2 separate regions of the Homo sapiens genome follow, and region 1 is linked to region 2. The links come from fine-mapping of genetic effects on gene expression. Tissue or cell type: aorta. Region 2 holds a variant in brackets; the other region holds the start of a gene. All regions are shown on one strand. Distances are from middle to middle.

What was found. PIP is the estimated chance that this variant, and not a neighbour inherited with it, causes the effect. A credible set is the group of variants that fine-mapping cannot tell apart.
Region 1: PRR22 starts here. The variant in region 2 is the best candidate, but not a certain one, in a credible set for the expression of PRR22 in aorta (GTEx, PIP 0.89).

The regions. Positions count from the first base shown.
Region 1 is chr19:5,783,176-5,785,927 of GRCh38, reverse strand. PRR22 (proline rich 22) reads left to right here and starts at 1,182. Exons shown (of 3, transcript NM_001134316.2): 1 at 1,182-1,397; 2 at 1,489-1,551; 3 at 1,875-2,752. The coding sequence starts at 1,268. DUS3L (dihydrouridine synthase 3 like) reads left to right here. Exons shown (of 13, transcript NM_020175.3): 11 at 137-325; 12 at 417-545; 13 at 653-788. The coding sequence ends at 725.
Region 2 is chr19:4,856,034-4,858,785 of GRCh38, reverse strand. The region is part of intron 4 of PLIN3 (perilipin 3); the gene reads left to right. Among named protein-coding and RNA genes, the nearest start is that of PLIN3, 10 kb to the left of the region's middle. The variant C/T (reference allele first, on the strand shown) is at 1,100.

The sequences.
Region 1 (2,752 bases), 930 kb before region 2:
GCATGCAGCTGGGAGGCTTACTAGGCTTGTAGGTTTTGTGGTCTGGGCTCCGGCTCAGGCCAGGCCATGGAAGCAGAGGCCACACGATCCCAGGCAGGCTGGTGGCTGGGCCCACTGATCGTCACCCGTCCCACAGTGGCGCCCTGCTCAAGCCGTGGCTCTTCACGGAGATCAAGGAGCAGCGGCACTGGGACATCTCGTCGTCCGAGCGCCTGGACATCCTGCGGGACTTCACCAACTACGGCCTGGAGCACTGGGGCTCGGACACGCAGGGCGTGGAGAAGACCCGGCGCTTTCTGCTCGAGTGGCTGTCCTTCCTGTGCCGGTGGGCACCGGGGCTGGCTGGGGTGGGCGGCGCGTGGGCCGCGGCTGGTTAGAGCTGACTCAAGCCTGTCCTGCCCGCCCACCCGCCGCAGGTACGTGCCCGTGGGGCTGCTGGAGCGGCTCCCACAGAGGATCAACGAGCGGCCGCCCTACTACCTGGGCCGCGACTACCTGGAGACGCTGATGGCCAGCCAGAAGGCAGCCGACTGGATCCGCATCAGGTGCCTGGGTGGGCTGGAGTTGGGGAGCTGCAGTCGGGGGCCCGGGGTCACGGAGGGTACTTTGCAGGTCCTGGGCCTGACCTCGCTTTCCACCTGCTCTCCCACAGCGAGATGCTCCTTGGGCCAGTGCCCCCCAGCTTCGCCTTCTTGCCGAAGCACAAGGCCAACGCGTACAAGTAGCCTCAGGCTTTCCCAGGGGCACCCTGGGGCGAGGAGAGTACAATAAATTTTATTCTTTTAAAATCCAGGCCTTTCTGTGACCCTGAAGCAGCCCCTCCTCGGCCCCCACCTTCCCCAAACCTCTTAGCTGCCTCCATGGGCCCTGCCCCAAGCTGGGTGCTGCTGGTGCCCAGAGAGGCCTTGACCCCCAAGAAGGTAGCGGGTTGAGGACCCGGGGGGCCTCAGCCTGTGTGGGTGTGGATCAGGGCAGCCTGCCTGGAGGAGGCGGCCTCAAAGCTGTTAGGGGGGTGTTGCTGGAAGAGGCAAAGGCCTGGCCCAGAATCCTCCCTCCCATGGTGATGACCATGTCTGCCAACGTCTGCCCCTGCTTGCCCCCAACACCCAGAACCCCAACCAGTGGGCGCGCTGCAGGCTGGAACCCGCTGCCCCGAGTAACCAGGCAAACAGAACCCCACCAGGTTCTCAGCCTGTTCTCCGGTTGGGCCACTTGCACTCCCACTGCCGCCCTCCTGGCCTGTCTGGACCGGGCCCCCCGCTGCCCCATGCAGCACCCCAAACCGTTCTGTGCCCCTGCAGCTCCCCAGGAAGGTTTCAGCCCGCAGAGTCTGGAGGGGGCTGAGGTGCTGGGCAACCAGCCTGCTCCCACCTGTGCCGAGCCTCCTCCCGCTATGGGTACGATCGGGTGGGTGGGAGCACCTGCTGGAGAGGGTTCAGGGGCCCACCCGCCTAAGGGCCCTACCCACCTGGGCACCTTTGTCCACAGGCTCCTTGAACCTGTATCATCCCCCAGACCCAGAGAAAGAGGTGTTTCCAGCCCCACCAGCAGGTACCGGCCTCCCCTGAGCCCTTGACGAGGCTGGGAGTGGGTTTGAGTGTGCAGGCCCATCTTGCCCCTGCCCCGTCCCTAAGTGGGAGCCTGAAGGCATGGCCTCTGCTCCCCATGCTTCACACAGGTCCCCCAGATGAGCCCCAAAGACAAGCTCTGTGTCATCCATCACCCAGCCAGGGCCCCAAAGCAATATCTATGTCGTCCCCCAAAGGGGCCCCCCAATGGCAAGGTTCTTGTGGCATCTCCCAAACAGGCCCCCAGGCTTGGGCTGGGCCCCTCAGGCAGCAGCTGCTCTCAGGGCACCCGCCTGCCGCCCACAGGTTTCCAGATGGCCCCATGCGGGTGCTTCTTCGACCCCCGCATCTATCGGATCGAGTGGACCACCCCCGACCTGGGCCAGTCAGCCCTGTATAAGCTGGCAGCAAGCAGCGGGGGGCCAGCGGGGGTCCCCTCCGCCCCAGGCAGCTACCTCCTGGAGCCTCAGCCCTACCTCAAGGCCCCGGGGCTGCCTCCATACCCCCACTACCAGCAGGCACCCGGGGGGCCCCAGTTTCTCTTGCCCTACTTCCCGCCTGAGGGCCCCGGGCCAGAGGCTCTGGGTTTTGTGGGGGACGCAGGGCCCGCCGCCTTCGTGGAGCTGCCCCTACCGCCCCTAGAGGAAGGCCCGGCCCCGCTGCCACCCCCACCCCCCAAGGAGAACAAGCCGCCCCCTGTACTCATCACGCTGCCTGCAGAGCCCACACTGCCCCCAGACGCCTACAGCCACCTCCAGGGTCACCTCGGCCACTTCCCTGGGCCCGAACCCCTGGCCTTCCCCGTCAAGGAGCTGCAGGGCAGTGGGGCCCGACCTGGGGTGCCCCTGTACCCACCGGGCCTCAGCGAGCTCAAGGTGGCCGAGGTCAAGGAGGGGGCCCTGCTGGGAGCAGGCAAGGCCAAGGCCCCCAAGACGGCCAGAGCTTTGGCACTGCCTGACAAGGTTCTGCTGGAGGACGCCATGAAGCTCTTCGACTGCCTGCCAGGCGCCTCTGAGCCTGAGGGTACCCTGTGCGAGGTCCCTGGGCCGGCCCTGCCTGACAGCAGTGGTGGGAACTCAGCCGATGACATCCGCTCGCTGTGCCTGCCCGAGGAGCTGCTGTCCTTTGACTACAGCGTGCCTGAGATCCTGGACACCGTGTCCAACGTTGACTACTTCTTCAAC
Region 2 (2,752 bases):
AGGTTGCAGTGATCCGAGATCATGCCATTGCACTCTAGCCTGGGCAGCAAGAGTGAAACTCCATCTCAAAAAAAAAAAAAAAAACCAAAAAAACACCATATTCTGGCCAGGCGCGGTGGCTCATGCCTGTAATCCCAGTACTTTGGGAGGCTGAGGTGGGCGGATCACAAGGTCAGGAGATCGAGACCATCCTGGCAAACACAGTGAAACCCCATCTCTACTAAAACTACAAAAAAAAAAATTAGCTTGGCGTGGTGGCGTGTGCCTGTAGTCCTAGTTACTCGGGAGGCTGAGGCAAGAGAATCACTTGAACCCAGGAGACGGAGGTTGCAGTGAGCTGAGATCGCGCCACTACACTCCAGCCTGGGCGACAGAGCGAGACTCTGTCTCAAAAACAACAAAACAAAAAAAACACCATGTTCCAAACTGTGTCCTGCCCCTCAGCAGCTGGGTGGCCCTCACACAAGTTACTTTGCCTCTGTGGGCCTCACTTTTTTTTTTTTTTTTTTTTTTTTGAGACGGGGTCTTGCTCTGTTGCCAGGCTGGTGTGCAGTGGTGCAATCTCGGCTCACTGCAACCTCCACCTCCGGGTTCCAGCGATTCTCCTGCCTCAGGCTGCTGAGTAGCTGGGGTTGCAGACGTCTGCCACCACGCCTAGCTAATTTTTGTATTTTTAGTAGAGACGGGGTTTCACCAAGTTGGCCAGGATGGTCTCAATCTCTTGACCTCGTGATCCTCCCGCCTCGGCCTCCCAAAGTGCTGGGATTACAGGCATGAGCCACTGTGCCCGGCCCCCTCTTTTTTTTTTTAAGATGGAGTTTCGCTCTTGTTGCCCAGGCTGGAGTGCACTGGTGCAGTTTCAGCTCACTGCAACCTCCACCTCCCAGGTTCAAGCGATTCTCCCGCCTCAGCCTCCCGAGTGGCTGGGATTACAGACATGTGCCACCACACCTGGCCAATTTTTGTATTTTTAGTAGAGATGGGGTTTTACCATGTTGGTCAGGCTGGTCTCGAGCTCCCGACCTCAGGTGATCCACCTGCCTTGGCCTCCCAAAGTGTTGGGATTACAGACATGAGCCACCAGGCCCAGCCTGGGTCC[C/T]ACTTTCTTTTCTACAGAATGGCAATGCTGACCTGGGGTTAACACCTGAAGGCCCAGAACAGCACATGGCTTGTAGCAAATGTTGGCTCTTAACATTAAAAAAAAAAATTTTTTTTTTGAGACAGGTTCTCACTCTGTCACCCAGGGTGGGGTGCAGTAGTGTGATCATGGCTCAACTGCAGCCTTGAACTCCTGGGCTCAAGTGATCCTCCCATCTCAGCTTCCCAAGTAGCTGGGACCACAGGCATGCACCACCATGCCTGGCTATTTTTAATTTTTTGTAGAGACGAGTTTTCACCATGTTGCCCAGGCTGTTCTCAGACTCCTGGGCTCAACAGATCCTCCTGCCTCAGCCTCCTGAGTAGCTGGGACTAGGTGCATCCACCACGCCTGGCTAATTTTTGTACTTTTTGTCAAGACGGAGTCTCGCCATATTGCCCAGGCCGGTCTCCAACTCTTGGGCTCAAGCAATCCTCCTGCCTCAGCCCCACAAAGTGCTAGAATTATAGGAGTGTGCCACTGTGCCCTACCTCAGTTTCCCTTAATCACCGCTTTTTAAAGACCCTGTCTCTAAATACAGCCACATTCTTACCCCTGGGGATCAGGACTTCAACATAAGAATTTGGGGTTGAGGGGGCCATAATTCAACCTATAACAGCCTGGGATGAAAAAATGAGGCACAGACCAGGCGTGGTGGCTCACGCCTTACTCCCAGCACTTTGGGAGGCCGAAGCGTGCAGATCACTTGAGATCAGGAGTACGAGACCAGCCTGGCCAACATGGTGAAACCCTGTGTCTACTAAAAATTCAAAAATCAGCCAGGCGTGATGGTGAGTTCCTATAATCTCAGCTACTCGGGAGGCTGAGGCACGAGTATCACTTGAACCTGGGAGGCAAGAGGTTGCAGTGAGCCGAGATCGTGCCACCACGCTCCAGCCTGGGCAACAGAGCAAGGCTCTGTCTCAAAAAAAAAAAAAAAAACACCCTCCTTCAGATAAGTGTGAGGCTTAATCGGTTATTGTTTGTCTCCCCAGCTGGGACCAGGGCACAGGCTGCCTGCTTTGTGGCTGTGTCCAGTGCCCAGCAGGCAGCCTGGCACAGGGTAGATGCTTATTTTTTTAGTTTTTTGAGACAGAGTGTTGCTCTTGTTGCCCAGGCTGGAGTGCAATGGTGCGATCTCGGCTCACTGCAACCTCCGCCTCTCGGGCTCAAGCGATTCTCCTGCCTCAGCCTCCCGAGTAGCTGGGATTACAGGCATGCACCACCATGCCTGGGTAATTTTATCTTTTTAGTAGAGATGGGGTTTCTCCATGTTGGTCAGGCTGGTCTCGAACTCCCAACCTCAGGTGATCTGCCTGCCTCGGCCTCCCAAAGTGCTGGGATTACAGGTGTGAGCCACCGCGCCCTGCAGATAGATGCTTATTAAGTATTCAGGTGCTCCATGTCCGCTTCAGCCCAGTGGTTACAGAAGGGCCACCCTCGGGTACCACCTGCTTGTGTCTGGGTCTGTAGCATCAGAAATAGGTGATCCCTGGGTTGGAGGCAGGACAAGCCAGCCGCATCCCAGCATCCTTGGACTTTCCCTGAGACCACCTGCAGGGACAGGCAGCTTATTCATCCACTTGCTATTGAGTGCCTACTGTATGCCGGGGA